2 separate regions of the Homo sapiens genome follow, and region 2 is linked to region 1. A link means that fine-mapping ties the variant in region 1 to the expression of a gene that starts in the linked region. Tissue or cell type: pancreas. Region 1 holds a variant in brackets; the other region holds the start of a gene. All regions are shown on one strand. Distances are between the middles of the regions.

Region 1 (8,000 bases):
CACTGCAACCTCCGCCTCCTGGGTTCAAGCAATTCTCATGCATCAGCCTCCCAAGTAGCTGGGACTACAGGCATGCGCCACTACTCCTGGCTAATTTTTTATATTTTTAGTAGAAATGGAGTTTTACCATGTTGGCCAGGCTGGTCTCGAACTCCTGACCTCAGGTGATCCACCCGCCTCAGCCTCCCAAAGTGCTGGGATTATAGGCGTGAGTCACCGCACCCGGCAGCATTTCATTTTTGAGACGACGTTTACAATCTGCCCTGTCCTTTTGGAGAAGTTTAGTTTCTAAAGCCAACCCCAGGATGCACCTTGTTTCTACTCTGGTACCAGCTGAACCATCTCTGTCACTCAGCCCCCTCCATGTCCTCTCCTGACACCAAGTCCCTTTGGGTTTTATGGAGCTCACCTAACCAGCTCGGCCCAGGCTGTAATGAGAGAGACCAGTGGAGTGTAAATTCCTGCAGGTGCAGGACAATGGGGTTGAGAGGGCTCTTACACCAGATGTCCCCTCAGCTCGAAGGGCAGAGAATCGGGTTCCAGAGTGTCCAAGTCTCCGGCCACCTGGTCATAGATTCCTCTTGGATCCTGATATGTGTCTTCAGGCCAGTGGAGGTCCCAGGGTCCCTGACAGGCAAAAAGTGGAGTTAGAACCATGGAGAGATGCCCTGTAGGTCTTCATTGAAGATCTGGGGGATACATGCCCCTGCTTAACTTCCCAGAAAAAAGTGTTTTAGCTTTTACTAAAATCCCAACATATACAAAAAAGGAGTGTGATTATAATGAATGCTTATGATGAACCCCATGTGCTTATCACCTAACTTCAACAATATCAGGCTGGGCACGGTAGCTCATGCCTATAATTCCAGCACTTTGGGATGCCAAAGCAGGAGGATTGCTTGAGACCAGGAGTTCGAGACCAGCCTGGGCAACATAGTGAGATCCTGTATCTACAAAAAATAATTTTATTTTTCTTAGACAGGGTCTGGCTCTGTCACCCAGGCTGGAGTGCAATGGCACGATCTTAGCTCCCTGCAACCTCCACCTTCTGGGCTCAATCCATCCTCCCACTTCAGCCTCCCAAGTAGCTGGGACTACAGGCATGCATCACCACACCCAGCTAACTTTTGAATTTTTTTTTTTTTTAAAGACGAGGTTTCCATTGTGGCCCAGGCTGGTCTTGAACTCCTGAGTTCAATCGATCCACCCGTCTCAGCCTCCCAAAGTGCTGGGATTATAAGTCACTGGGATTATGAGCCACTGCACCGAGCCTATAAAAAATATTTTTAAAGAAATTAGCTAGGTGTGGTGGTGAGCGCCTATAGTCCTAGATACTCAGGAGGCTGAGGTAAGAGGATCGCTTGAGCCCCGGAGGTCAAGGCTGCAGTAAGCCATGATCATGCCACTGCACTCCCGCCTGGGTGACAGACTGAGACTATCTCAAAAAAAGAAAAAAAGAAAAAAGAAAAAACCAGTAGCAACCCTTGGTCAATTGATTTCTCTGTATTTCTATCTTGTTCCCCTCCCCGACTAACTGGATTATTTTGAAGCAAGCCCAAGATACCCAATGATTTCATGTTAGAAAAATAATGTAAATGTCAGAAATATAAAACCTTTAGGCCAAGCATGGTGACTCATGCCTGTAATCCTAGCATTTTGGGAGGCCAAGGCAGGTGGATCACTTGAGATCAGGATTCGAGACCAGCCTGGGCAATGGGCAAAACCCTGTCTCTACTAAAAATACAAAAATTAGCCGGGCATGATGGTGCATGCCTGTAATCCCAGCTACTTGGGAGGCTGAGGCAGGAGAATCGCTTGAACCTGGGAGGTGGAGGTTGCAGTGAGCTGAGATTGTGCTACTGCACTCCAGCCTGGGTTACAGAGCAAGCCTCCATCTCAAAAATAAATAAATAAATAAAATTTTTAAAAATGAAAACTTTAAAAGTCCATGTTATCAGGTATGGCAACTGTGGAATGTAAGTTATGATTATATTGTCCTATGAATTTCCAAAACAGTTCCCTAATCATAATAGAAAAACAAAACAAAGCAAAACCAAACAAACAACAACAACAAAAAGAACATGAATGGTAGCCCTAACTGGGGATGTATTTTGTTCTAGGGCTGGGAGAAAATGATTATTTTAGTTCAGCAAACTTTAGAGCAGATTGGCCCATGCTCCAAATATGGCCTGCCACCTGCTTTTTTATACTGCCCAAGAGCTAAGAATGGTTTTTATTTTTTTCTTTTTCTTTTTCTTTTTTTTTGAGACGGAGTCTTGGTTTGTTGCCCAGGCTGGAGTGCAGTGGCGCAATCTTGGCTCACTGCAACCTCCGCCTCCCGGGTTTAAGCGATTCTCCTGCCTAGCCTCCCGAGTAGGTGGGACTACAGGCGCCAGCCACCACACCCGGCTAACTTTTTGTATTTTTAGTAGAGACGGGGTTTCACCATGTTGGTCAGGCTGGTCTCAAACTTCTGACCTTGTGATCCGCCCGCCTTGGCCTCCCAAAATGCTGGGATTATAGGCATGAGCCACCGTGCCCGGCCTGGTTTTTCATTTTTTAATTGTTGGGAAAAAATGAAAAAAGATAACATTTGTGACATAGAAAAATTACATGAAGTTCAAATTACAGTGTCCAAAAATTAAGTTTTGTAGGAACATAGCCACACTCATTCATTTATGCATCGTCTATGGCTGCTTTTACTTTACGGTGGCAGAGTTTGTGTAGAGTTTGAGGAAGACCGTATGTCCCACACAGCCCAAAGCATTTACTACTATCCGGCCCTGTTCGGAAAAAGCGTGCAGCCTCCATCTACGCTTTAGAGAGTGCATATGGTCCAGCACCATGGACAGCGCTTTGCGCCATGCTGGTGAGGAGCTAGGATCTGACAACAGTCCCGGTATCGGAGGTCGTTCACAGAGACAGAAGGAAATCCTTGGCCCAGGAGGTGCCAGAGCATCAGCCAAGGCCACACAGGAAATCAGGGGTTCTGTCCCATCTCCCTAACTGTGCAGCAATGGGTGGGGATTGGCTGGTGGTCAAAGTGCCTGTCTGTTGTTTTTGCCTGTACAGCCACCATCCTCATTTCCCTGTGAGCTCTCTGTCCCTCTCCTACTCTCAGCCCAGTGACCTGAGTGGGGCTGGCCCCTACTCCCTGATCCCATGGTGAACTGGCCCAGGCCTCTCCTGTTAGCATATTCCATCCCCTGACTCAGGGATGTGTTCAGTGATGAGGATGTGACCCAAGCTAGACCAATTAAGTGTCAGCATTGGGCATTTGGGGCCACTGGAAAACAGGTATACTCTTTCTTTGAAGATTTCTAATCTCGTAGGATACAAATCTAGATTTTCTGGGAATATTTTTTCCCTTTCTTTTTTGAAACAGTCTCTCAGGCTGGAATGCAGTGGCACAATCAGGGCTCATGGCAGCCTCAACTTCCCTGGCTCAGGCATTCCTCCTACCTCAGCCTCCTGAGTAGCTGAGACCACAGGCATGCACCACCATGCCCAGTTAATTTTTTAAACTTTTTTTTTTTTTGAGACAGAGTCTTGCTCTGTTGCCCAGGCTGGAGTGCAGTGGCATGATCTCGGCTCACTGCAACCTCTGCCTCCTGGGTTCAAGCGATTCTCCTGCATCAGCCTCCCAAGTAGCCGGGATTACAAGTGTGTGCCACCACATCCAGATAATTTTTGCATTTTTTGTAGAAATGGGGTTTCACCATGTTGGCCAGGCTGGTCTCGAACTCTTGACCTCAGGTAATCCACCCACCTCAGCCTCTCAGAGTGCTGGGATTACTGGTGTGAGCCACCATGCTCGGCTTAACTTTTTTTTTTTTAAAGATGGGGTATTATTGTGTTGCCCAGGCTGGTCTCCAATACCTGGGCTCAAGCAATCCACCTACCTCAGCCTGCTGAGATTAGAGATATGAGCCGTGACCATGCCTAGCCATAAAAACATTTTTAGGGAAGAAATTCTGGGCCCAGCTGGGCCTGATGACAATTGTATGCCTTGATTTTTCAGTTGAATGGGCCCCCAAATTCTCTCTTTCT[C/T]TCTCTTTAACCAGTGGAGTAGATATGGCTAATTATCTTTAAAAATTCATGTCTACTTCCTTCCACAGTAGCAGAATTGCAGCAAGGCACATCACTGCTAAGCTAGACCACATTTCACAGCCTCCTTTGCCGTCAGATGTGACCATGTGACTCTCTTCCCACCAGGGGAGTGAGAGCAGAGTGGTGTGCACCATTTCTGGGCCTGGGCCACAAGGCAGGGTTGTGCCTCCTCCACATTCTTTCACCTTTTCCCATGGGTTGAACCCCCAGTGAACTGGCTCATTCATGTAGACTCGGTTGACTTGAGCAGGGCCACTCACGTCTGACTGAAAAAGAAATAGACTGCCTTCTTTTTTTCAGAGACAGGGTCTTGCTCTGTTGCCCAAGCTGGAGTGCAGTGGCACCATCATGGCTCACCGCAGCCTCCAACTCCTGAGCTCAAGGGATCCTCCTGGCTCAGCCTCCTGAGTAGCTGAGACTACAGGTGCACACCTCCATGCCTGGCTCATTTTAAAAAATGTTTTGTAGAGACAAGTCACTATATTGCCCAGGCTCGTCTCAAACTTATGGGCTCAAGCGATCCTCCTGCCTTGGCCTCCCAAAGTGTTGGGATTACAGGCATGGACCATCATGCCCAGCCGACTGTCTTTAAGCCACTGGATCATGGTCAGGCCTCTTTGTTACAGCAGCTAGCTGGCCCTAACTAATACAAGCAATAGGAGGTAGGCTCCCAGCACTAGCCAGGAAGGATGGTTGCTGATGCAAAGCTTCTCACCATCTGCACTTCATCGTAGAGGGGTCCCCAGGCTCCAGACGGGGGGTACGTTCTTTCTACCTCATCATACAAGTGCCCAGGGAAGGCCATATCCTCATCTTCACCTGTGAAACCTGGAGTTGGAGTGGAAGGGAGACACGATCAAGGCACCCAGTCCAGGCGTCGGGGGTACCTCTGAGTGAGGGAATCCTGACATGGTCCTAACTCACCTCGGGAATAAGACACCTCCTCCTGCGTCGGGGGCAGCTGGGGGCTGAAGTCCCTCAGGGAGCGGTAATACGGCTCTGCCTCTGTTGTGCTGACCTGTTCCCCACACGCAAAACAAACAAAGCCCTTTCCATCCTCTGACCCCACTGTGCCCGGAAGGGCAATGATCAACCTGATGCTAACGGCAGGGCTTCAGTCGCCGTCGGTGCCCTGATTGTGGGGTCACCAGGGCCACCCCCACTTACCGTGGAGCTCTGAGTGTCCCGCTCTCCTGTCCACTGGCTCTCCTCATATTCGTTCCTGACTCGGTCCTCTTCCGACCTTCCAGGATGAAGGTGTGGGGGGAAGTTGAGTGCTGCCCCCCGCCACCAGTCTCCCCCAAACCTCCCTCAGAGCCTTCTTTACAGAAAAATATCCCCACTTACCCTGCCTCTGTCTTCTCTGAGATGCCTGAAGGAAACAGGAATAAAGGGCTCAGTGACCCTATGCAAGCCCCCCACCCCGGCCCCAGGAAGACCTTCAGTATGCAGCAACCACAGGGTTCCCTATCACCCTCGGGTCTCCACCCTGGCAGGGAAGGGTCTCTCCTCACCCTCAGCAAGACGCCTGAGTCTCCGCTGCCAGAGGACCCCCCCGACACAGGAGGCATTGGAGAGGAGCAGAAGCCCCCCAAGAGCGAACAGCACAGGCAGCAGGGGCAGCCCCGAGGGTCCTAGGGGTGGAAGATACCCCTCAGTGAATCCCAGACAACAGGCTGTAGGCCAGGGGTGGGTCTCCCCGAGAAAGTGTAGCCCTGACCAAGTCCCTCCCCCAGGGTCAGAGAAACAGATGGGCAGAGGTCTCTGTGCCCACCCTTTCTGCCCACCCAAGGGCAGGTGGCTTCTTTCTTAAGTCAAGCCATTAGCAAAACTTCCTCCGTTTGCTTGAACTCTGCAAACTCAGAACGGAACTCTGGACTCAGGAGGGAGCTTCAGCTCGTTAGCTGGGCACTGAAGACTTTCTGTGGTCCAGCCTCTTCCCACGCCTCCAGCCATGCCCACCAAACTTAGACCCTGGTACTGGACTGTCCAGCCACACAAATCAACCACCAGCTGTTTCCAGAATCACTGAAGCAAATTCACACCTCAGAGCTTTGGAATAGTTAAGTGTCTGTCCTCAAATGTCCTTTCTTCTCAAGCAAACTTCTGTTTGCCTTTCAAATTCTATCTCAAGGTCAGGCGCTGCAGCACATGCCTGTAATCCCAGCATGTTGGGAGGTCAAGGTGGGAGAATCGCTTGAGCCTAGGAGCTCAAGACCAGCCTAGGCAACATAGTGAGGCTGATTCTTTACAAAAAAAATTAAAAATTTAGCAGCATGGTGGTGCATGTCTATAGTCCCAGCTACTCGGGACACTGAAGCAAGAGGATTGCTTGAACCTGGTAAGTCAAGGCTCCAGTGAGCTATGATAGCACCACTGCACTCCAGCCTGGGCAGCAGAGCAAGACCCTGCCTCTGAAAAAAAAATCCCATCTCAAGGACTTCTTTATTTTATTTTGTTTTTTAATTAAGACGGAGTTGGCTGGGCACGGTGGCTCACGCCTATAATCCCAGCACTCTGGGAGGCTGAGGGGTTGGATCACAAGGTCAGGAGTTCAAAACCAGCCTGGCCGATATGGTAAAACCCTGTCTCTACTAAAATACAAAAAATTAGCTGGGTGTGGTGGCAGGCACCTGTAGTCCCAGTTACTTGGGAGGCTGAGGCAGGGGAATCACTTGAACTGGGGAGGCAGAGGTTGCAGTGAGCCGAGATCACGCTACTGCACTCCAGCCTGGGTGACAGAATGAGACCCTGTCTCAAAAAAAAAAAAAAAAAAAAAAGAGTCTCACTCTTTCACCCAGGCTGGAGTGCAGTGGCATGATCTTGGCTCACTGCAACCTCCACCTGCAGGGTTCAAGCGATTCTTCTCCCTCAGCCTCCCAAGTAGCTGGGATTACAGGCGCATGCCACCACACCCGGCTAATTTTTTTTTTTTTTGTATTTTTAATAGAGACGGAGTTTCGCCATGTTGGACAGGCTGTTCTTGAACTCCTGGCTTCAAGTGGTCTGCCCACCTTGGCGTCCCAAAGTGCTGGCATTATAGGCGCGAGCCACCGTGCCCAGCCTCAAATGACTTCTTTCCACCAACTTCCATCCCAGCCAATATCAGGCTGACTTGGCTGCTATATCCCTGAGGACAAGGCTGAACCCCTCTAAGTAGGCATCTGTTGGGCGGGCAATCTCCCCTGTCTTCTACTAATAGCACTTTTTTCCCCTGGGGAGAACAGCCACTCCCCAATCTCAGTCTTGGGTTCAGGCAGGACTCCACAGTGGGCACATGGCCCGGCCTGGAAAATAAGAGTCTCCATTCCTCTCTCCACAGTGATTGTTTAGACACAGGCATTTGACCCAACGTGTGTTTTTAACAAAACATTTAGGACAATTCTACTAGCTGTCAAGAAGATGGAGGTGGAGGAGGGCTTCTCTGCCCCTCTGATTGAAGAAACTCAGAAAGAAGCCACCACAGATGAAGGCAAAGTTGAGAGAGGGTGAGAAACAGATCGCTGGTGAGATTTTTGAGCACCTGAAAGTGGCCACACTTGGAATTTTTTATTTCATATACCAAGACTTTTTCTTTTTTTTCTTGAGACAGGGTCTCAACTCTGTTGCCCAGGCTGCAGTGCAGTGGCGTGAGCTCGGCTCATTGAAGGCTCAACCTCCTGGGCTCAATCAATCCTCCCGCATCAGCCTCCTGAGTAGCTGGGACTGCAGGCATGCACTGCCATGCCTGGCTAATTTTTTTTGTTTTTGTTTTATAGAGATGGGGTTTCACCATGTTGCCCAGGTTTGTCTCCAACGTCTGGGCTCAAGTGATCTACCTGCCTCAGCCTCCCAAAGTTCCGGGATTATAGGCATGAGCCACTGTGCCCAGCCAAGCCATTCTTTTTCGT
Region 2 (8,000 bases), 55 kb before region 1:
TTTAGAGGCTACATTAAAAAAAAAAACTAGTTGCCATGCTGGGGAGGGGTTTGGGTTACACAGGTGTATGCACTTATGAAACTTAGTGAAGTGTGTGAATTTCATTGTATGTAAAGTTTACCTCAAAAGAAAATATTGAACGCCAGTTAAAGATACGCCTGTAATCTGACTTCTTTGGGAGGCCAAGGCGGGAGGATCACTTGAGGCCAGGAGTTTGAGACTACCCTGGGCAACACAGCAAGACCTGTCTCTACAAAAATAAATAAGTAAATAAATAGCCAGATGTGGTGGCACACGATTTGCAGTCCCATTACTAGGGGCGGGGAGGGGCGCTGAGGCAGGAGGTTTACTTGAGCCCAGGAGTTCAAGGCTGTATTGTAGTGAACTAAGATCATGCCACTGCACTCCAGCCTGGGCTACAGAGCTAGACCCTGTCTTTAAAAAAAAGAAAAGAAAAAAAAAAGTATGTACACTGAAATATTTAGGGAACAATAAACCAATGTCGACAATTTATTTTGAAATGCATCCAGAGATGAGTTGGATTGATGGATAAATAGTGTAATAGGTAGATGTGAGATAAAGCAAATACAGCAAAGTGTTCATGGTAGGATCTAAGTGGCGGATATGCGGGTGTCCACTGTAAAATTTTTCAACTTTGCTGTAATTTAGAAACTTTTCATGGCCGGGCGCGGTGACTCATGCCTGTAATCCCAGCACTTTGGGAGGCCAAGGCGGGCGGATCACGAGGTCAGGAGATCGAGACCATCCTGGCTAACACGGTGAAACCCCGTCTCTACTAAAAATACAAAAAATTAGCCGGGCGTGGTGGCGGGCGCCTGTAGCCCCAGCTACTCGGAAGGCTGAGGCAGGAGAATCACTTGAACCTGGGAGGCAGAGCTTGCAGTGAGCCGAGATTGCGCCACTGCACTCCAGCCTGGGTGACAGAGCGAGACTCCGTCTCAGAAAAGAAACTTTTCATAATAAAATGATGGAGAATATATGATTGGGGTTGTTTTGATATCTGCATTTACAAAATGGAGGGATAAGATGGATTTCTAGTAACTTCTGTATGTCACATGGTAAATATAATATTTGTTTTCAACCTTTCTTTCTTTCTTTTTTTTTTTTTTTTTTTTTGAGATGGAGTCTTGCTCTGTCACCCAGGCTGGAGTGTAGTGGTGCAACCTCGGCTCACTGTAACCTCTGCCTTCCAGGTTCAAGTGATTCTCCTTCCTCAGCTTTCCGAGTAGTTGAGATTATAGGTGCATGCCACCTCACCTGGCTAATTTGTGTGTGTGTGTGTGTTTTTAGTAGAGACAGGGTTTCACCATGTTGGTCTGGCTGGTCTCGAACTCCTGACCTCATGATCCACCTGCCCCGGCCTCCCAAAGTGCTGGGATTACAGGTGTGAGGCACCGCACCCGGCCTGTTTCTAACCTTTCTAAGCAAACCATACATTTAAATGAAATCAGAGTGGGCACAGTGGCACAGGCCTGTAATCTCAGCACTTTGGGAGGCCAAGGCGAGCAGATCACTTGAGGTCACGAGTTAGAGACCAGCCTGGGCAATATAGTGAAACTCTGTCTCCACTAAAAATTAGCTGGGCCTGGTGGCGGGTGCCTGTAGTCCCAGGTGCTCAGGAGGCTGAGGCAGGAGAATTGCTTGAACATGGGAGGCGGAGGCTGCAGTGAGTTGAGATGGTGCCACTGCACTTCAGCCTGGGCAACAGAGTGAGACTCCATCTCAAAAACAAACAAACTAACAAAAAAATGTAATTGACAAGAAAAATAGCTGTTTAGATATAAGGAGAAATAAAAGATACTATAGTAGCAGAACCTGATCTAGCTGGGTCACGGGTGGGGTCTAGAAGCATTCCTGAGGAAGTTACACTTAAGCTGAGACAGGTAGAAATTATCTAGTTAACAAAGGGCTGTCCTAATTACTCTAGTTGGATAACCGCTCCCAAAACTTAGTGGCATAAAACAATTATTTTATTATGCTCATGGATTCTGAGAGTCAGAGGTTTGGACAGGGCTCATATGGGGACAATTTTTGTCTCCTCCATGATGTCTGGGGATTCACCTGGAAAGACTCAAAGGTGACTTGATAGACTTGATGGCTGTGGAGTAGAATCCTCCAGAACTTCTTCCGTGGTCTTCTCCCAGTCTGACTGGGACTATTGACTAATGCCTATACATAGCTCCATTGGCCTGGGCTTCCTCAAAGCATGTCTGCTTCAGCATAGTCACACTTCGCATATGATGCACCATGGTTCTACAGCTCATTCCAGTGGACGAGAACATTGGTCAAGAAGCTGCATTGCCTTTCATCACATAGCCTTAGAAATCACCGTGTCACTTCCACTGTTTTCTATTGGTTGAAGCTATCCTAGTCCCACCCAGATTCATAGAAAGCAATCATAGAGTCCGCGTCTTGATAAGAAGAGTGTCAGAGAATTTGCAGCTGTTTTAAAATCACTGCAGGACCCCATTCTCCATGATGTGATTATTACACATTGCATGCCTGTATCAAAACATCTCATGTGCCCCCTCAATATATATACCTAAATATACCTGTTATGTACCCAGAAAAATTAAAAAATAAAAAAAAAAATCACTGCAGGGGTTGATGGGGAAACACTAGACAGAAGGAATATCGTGTGGGAAATCCCTGTGATGAGAGTGAGGTCAGCAAATTTAGTACATAAGTAACTGCACATTCACCTCTCCCTCAGCACTCCCTTTCACCAGCCCTTGCTTAATTATTCTCCATAGAATGAATCACCTTCTAATATTTTTTTTTTTTTTCAGACAGAGTCTTGCTCTGTCTCCCAGGCTGGAGTGCAGTGGCAAAATCTCGGCTGACTGCAACCTCCGCCTCCTGGGTTCAAGCAATTCTCCTGTCTCAGGCTCCTGAGTAGCTGGGATTACAGGCACACGCCACCACACCTGGCTAATTTTAATATTTGTATTTTTAGTAGAGACGGGGTTTCAGCATATTGGCCAGGCTGGTCTCGAACTCCTGACCTTGTGATCCTCCCGCCTCGGCCTCCCAAAGTGCTGGGGTTACAGGCGTGAGCCACTGTCCCCAGCTTTTTTTTTTTTTTTTTTTTTTTTTTTTTGAGACAGAGTCTCACTTCAACACCTAAGCTGGAGTGCAGTGGCGCGATCTCGGCTCACAGCAAACTCTGCCACCTGGGTTCAACCCATTGTCTTGCCTCAGCCTCCCAGGTAGCTGGGATTACAGGCACGCCCGCCGCCACACCTGGCTAATTTTTGTATTTTTAGTAGAGACGGGGTTTCTCCATGCTGGCCATGCTGGTGTCGAACTCCTGACCTCAAGTGATCTGCCCGCCTCGGCCTCCCAAAGTGTTGGGATTACAGGCGTGAGCCACCACGCCTGGCCTAATATTCTATATTTTGTTTAATGTTAATTTTGTTCATTGTCTTCTCCCAGTAGCTTTTGAGCTCCAATGTGGGCAGGGTATATTTTCTCCTGGTTTGGTTGTTGATGTATGTACAAATTGATTAGAGTTTGAGTGAATGAATGAATGAATGAATGAATGAACAGACCAAGACCCTCTGAGATGAGAATTTGTTGAGGGCATGACTAAGGAGAGACCCTCCTGTGAAGGGCGTTATTACAGTGTTATCTGGGCATGCTCAGTATTAGCAGGCTCCATTGGGAATGGCTTTATGGGGGGCATAAGCATGATCTGGCATTTCCCCCTAAGCATTTTCCTAGAAAAAAAAAATCAAGGCTGGAGATTGGCCCGTAATAAGCAGTAGAAGGGGAAACAAGAAAATGTCCAGTGGGCAGGGGAGGCCAAATCGCAGAAAGCCTCGGGTTACGTCCTAGGCAAGGTATATGAGGCAACGAGAAACGTCCATGGGCGGAGCGTCCTCGGCATTATGTGAGCGGGGTCGGGATCAGGACTGAAAAGGTGAGACTTGGGACTGGGACTTTGAAAAGCTGCTTAAGGAACTGGGCACTGCTCTGAGGCCGTGGGAGAATCCAATTAAGACTATCAGGGGCTGGCTGGCGTGGTGGCTCACGCCTGTCATCCCAGCGCTTTGAAAGGAGGCTGAGGAGGGAGTATCTCTTGAGCCCCAGAGATCAAGACCATCCTGGGTAACATAGTGAGACCCCCATGTCTAAAAAAAATTAGCCAGGCGTGGTAGCGCACGCCTGTAGTCCCAGCTACATGGGAGGTATCGCTTGAGCCCAGGAGGTTGAGGCTGCAGTAAGCCACGATTGCAGGACTGCGCTCCAGCCTGGGCGACAGAGTGAGACCCTGTCTCTTAAAGAAATAAAAATAAAAAAGTCAGAAGAATGGACACTGGGAGTGGACGAAAGGTAGGGTCCATTGCTTGGTGTTGGAAGTGTCGGAAGCAAAGCATAAAGAACCTGGGGGCTTGTCTCAGGAGGGCGATGACAGCCAATGAAAAGCAGTCATGGGCGTGGCGCTGTCAAACTTCGAGGGGCGGGACCGAGGACACAGAGCCGGGGCGGAGCCCAAGGTGAAACCAATGAGAAGCCTCCGGGTGGGCGGGGCATCGGCCTAAGGCCAAGGGCGGAGCCAATGAGAAGCAGCGCCGCGTTCCCGCTGCCCCCCGCCCCCGTGGGGCGCGCGCCGGAGCCACGGGCAGCCGTTAGGGGCGGGGTCTGCAGCCGCCCGCGCGCGGCTCGCGCCCTCCCCTTTGTGTCGCCATGGCGGCGGCAGCGGCGACGAGAACGGCGAGCGAGGGGTCGAGCGCGGCCGGGGCCTGAGGAGGCTACGCGACCATGGTGGTAAGGGTCCCACGCGGCCGTCAGCCTGTCCGTCCGGATGTCAGTCTGTCCGTGCGCAGCCCCGCCCCGCGCGCCCCGCCCCCGGCCCCGCCCGATCCCGCGGCCTGTGCTTCAGCCGTGGTCCCTCCCGTCCTGCGGCCCCATCCCGGGTCCCAGCCCGTACCTCGACCCCGCCCCCTAAGCGCGCATCCCCGTCTTCCACGCCCTGGATGGGGTGACAGGGACCTAGGGCCTGGGCTGGGAGGAGGCGGGGCTAGTCCAGGAAGGGACCCGCGCCACCCAAGTGGCCCCTGCAGGGGCCTCCTGAGGCTCCTGGGTCCTTCCCCAGCTCCCATCCCAGCACCTTCCTCGGCATCCTTCTGCCAGCCCTCAGCCCTCCCCGGCGGAGCCCCCTCCTCCTCCCCACAGCCCCTTTCTCATTCCCGAGCCCCACCCCCCACCCGCTCCATCCCCAGCCTGACCCTTTTCTTCTCCTTCTCCCTCATTTTCACCCTATCCCAGTTCCTCTCAATCCCCCCCGCCCCGCATCAGTCTGAGCCTTTGCCTCGTCTCTCCAGCCACTCCTTCCTTACTCCACCCCAACAGGCCAGCACTGTACCTCCCTTGATCCTCGGGTCTGCTCCATCTCCTTGTCCTCATCCCCCTCCCCCACCATTTCCCTCTCCCACCATGCTGCTCCCGCTCATTCATCCATTCATTCCCTCACTTAGCAGACATTCACTGAGACCGCCTCTGTGCAGGCCCCACGCTCCAGGCACAGAGAGAGTCAGCTCCCATCCTGCCTTGGGGAACCTTATGGGCTGGAGGGGGACAGACCCTGAGGGTGAGACCCTGAGGGTGACTGGGGGTTGCAGGGACATGGAGCAGGGAGACGCTACAGCCCAGTGAATCTGTCTGGCAGCTGGTTAATTTATTCATCAGATTTTACCCAGTCCCTGCTGCGCGCGACTGGGCTGGCACTGGGGACCCAGAAAAGAATCAGGAACAATCATGTCTGAACACCAACTCAATGCCCAGCTCTATGCTGGGGAGCTCAGTCTGGGGCCCTCCTTCTGGGAGGCCGGTCATAGTCCAATGAGAGAGATGAACTTGTCACCACCAGTGCCATCTCAGAGTGATCAGAGCTGTGAAGGGAGAAGCTCTGGTCAAGGCATGGAACCTGGGATGGGGGAACCTCAGGGGATGGAGAGAGTCCAGAGGAGATGCCAGGTGCAGCCTGAAGGGTCAGGGAGAACTTCCTGGAGGAGGGCACATGTGAGTTGGGACCTGAGGGGTGGGAGTGAGGATGAATGTACCCAGGGAAAGGTGGGGCGAGTGTTCCAGGCTGAGGGAACAGCCTTTGCAAAGGCCTAGAAGGAAATGAGAAGAGGGTGCTTTTTTTGGACTCTTAGAAGTTCAAGAGCTCTGAGAGTGGGGGCAATGGGAAGAGATGGGACTGGAGAGGTAAACAGAAATCAGCTCAGGGAAGTCTCGATTATCAGACCAGAGAATTCAGACTTCGTCTTGAAGACAACAGGGAGTCATTGAAGGCCCAGGATCTATGGAGAAATAGAGCCAGATTTGTGTTTTCTGAAAACGATCCAGGCTATTGCGGAAAAGCTGGCAGGAGGGGAGAGGCTGGAAGCAGGAAGGCTGATGAGATGGGAGTTGTGATTGTCTAGACAGTGGTAGGAGATCACTGTACTCTGCAGGGGCTACGGAAGGGTTTTCAGCAGGGAGAGATGGGACCAGCATGCTCTCCATCCTGTTGCCCCGCCTCACGTCTGGCCCCTGCTTCTCCAGTCCCCCACCCCAGACCACACACGAAGAAGCAGTCCTGTCCTCAGCCCAGCCCTCACCTCCCCCGACCTGCCATCCTGCTTCATGCTCAGGGCGGTGTGTGGAGCGCCCGGGGCTCTGGACCCGCGCTGCCAGATAACAATGCTCTCGTTGTCTCTTTGCTCCCATCTCTGGGGGCCTCTGATTCTTTCTGCTCTACAGGCACGCAGCACTGACAGCCTGGATGGCCCAGGGGAGGGCTCGGTGCAGCCTCTACCCACTGCTGGGGGGCCCAGTGTGAAGGGGAAGCCTGGGAAGAGGTGAGGGTGAGGGAGGAAAGGGCTCAGCTAGGAGCTGGGGAGACTCAAGGAGCTGCTGGTGACGCATCCCCTGTCTCCCAGGCTCTCAGCTCCTCGAGGCCCCTTCCCGCGGCTGGCTGACTGCGCCCATTTCCACTACGAGAACGTTGACTTTGGCCACATTCAGGTATGGGGGCTTTGCATTTGCACCCAGGAGGGAAGACAATATCCTACCCAACCTTGCAACGATATCAGGTGCTTTGCTTCTGAAACTTATCCCTGTGACTGGCTGCTGCACGCGTCTGAGCAGTCAGTAGCAAAAGTTGCAGGAGCCACAGCAGATGGGGAGAGCTGCTCATTCATTCATCCATTTGTTCTTTTATTCATTCAACAACAACTTTTGTTAGGTATCTGCTCTATGTCAGGGACCAGGACATCACCAGGCCCTGTCCTCGGGGAGGTCCAGAAGGGAGTCACAAACCCGTCCCTAGATAGTGCCATCCCCAGGAGGTCAGGACTGGGACAAAAGTCCACCTGGGCCTTGCTTTCCCTCTGCAGCTCCTGCTGTCTCCAGACCGTGAAGGGCCCAGCCTCTCTGGAGAGAATGAGCTGGTGTTCGGGGTGCAGGTGACCTGTCAGGTGAGGCCATCCCGCCTCTCATCTAGCCTGAGAGAATGGCCACTGTAGTCCTCAGCTCGGTGTCATGGGGCCCCTGCTCCCTTCTGTCCCTCTGCTCCCACAGGGCCGTTCCTGGCCGGTTCTCCGGAGTTACGATGACTTTCGTTCCCTGGATGCCCACCTCCACCGGTGCATATTTGACCGGAGGTTCTCCTGCCTTCCGGAGCTTCCCCCGCCCCCCGAGGGTGCCAGGGCTGCCCAGGTAACCTGCTTGTTGTCTCAGCCCCTGCCTCATGAGTGTGTCCTCATCCACAGTGTGAAATCATCAAGGCAGCGGGATAGAGAAATATTTAAATACTGGTATGGCCCAAGTCCCAACCAATCTGAATGAATGGAGAAGCCTTAGAAACGTAGTAGGCTTCTGCTACATTTAGCTTTGCTAAGTTTTAGGATCATGGGGAGTTCCAGGGGGTCCCATGGGAGGGTCACCATGGTCATGCCAACCAGGGTACTCAAGAGCTTGGCCCAGCCTGC

Evidence for each region. PIP is the estimated chance that this variant, and not a neighbour inherited with it, causes the effect.
Region 2: it holds the start of ARHGAP33, and the variant in region 1 is fine-mapped to the expression of ARHGAP33 in pancreas (GTEx, PIP 0.98).

What each region holds. Positions count from the first base shown.
Region 1 is chr19:35,826,019-35,834,018 of GRCh38, forward strand. NPHS1 (NPHS1 adhesion molecule, nephrin) reads right to left here. Exons shown (of 29, transcript NM_004646.4): 24 at 5,625-5,744; 25 at 5,458-5,482; 26 at 5,278-5,353; 27 at 5,035-5,128; 28 at 4,826-4,938; 29 at 1-627. The coding sequence ends at 496. Among named protein-coding and RNA genes, the nearest start is that of PRODH2, 17 kb to the left of the region's middle. The variant C/T (reference allele first, on the strand shown) is at 4,051.
Region 2 is chr19:35,770,874-35,778,873 of GRCh38, forward strand. It overlaps ARHGAP33 (Rho GTPase activating protein 33), which reads left to right and starts at 4,691. Exons shown (of 21, transcript NM_001366178.1): 1 at 4,691-4,791; 2 at 6,772-6,869; 3 at 6,951-7,035; 4 at 7,407-7,487; 5 at 7,591-7,728. The coding sequence starts at 4,786. PROSER3 (proline and serine rich 3) reads left to right here. Exons shown (of 11, transcript NM_001367856.1): 11 at 1-293. RefSeq lists enhancers at 4,183-4,242, 6,264-7,149, 7,150-8,000 and a silencer at 4,473-4,952.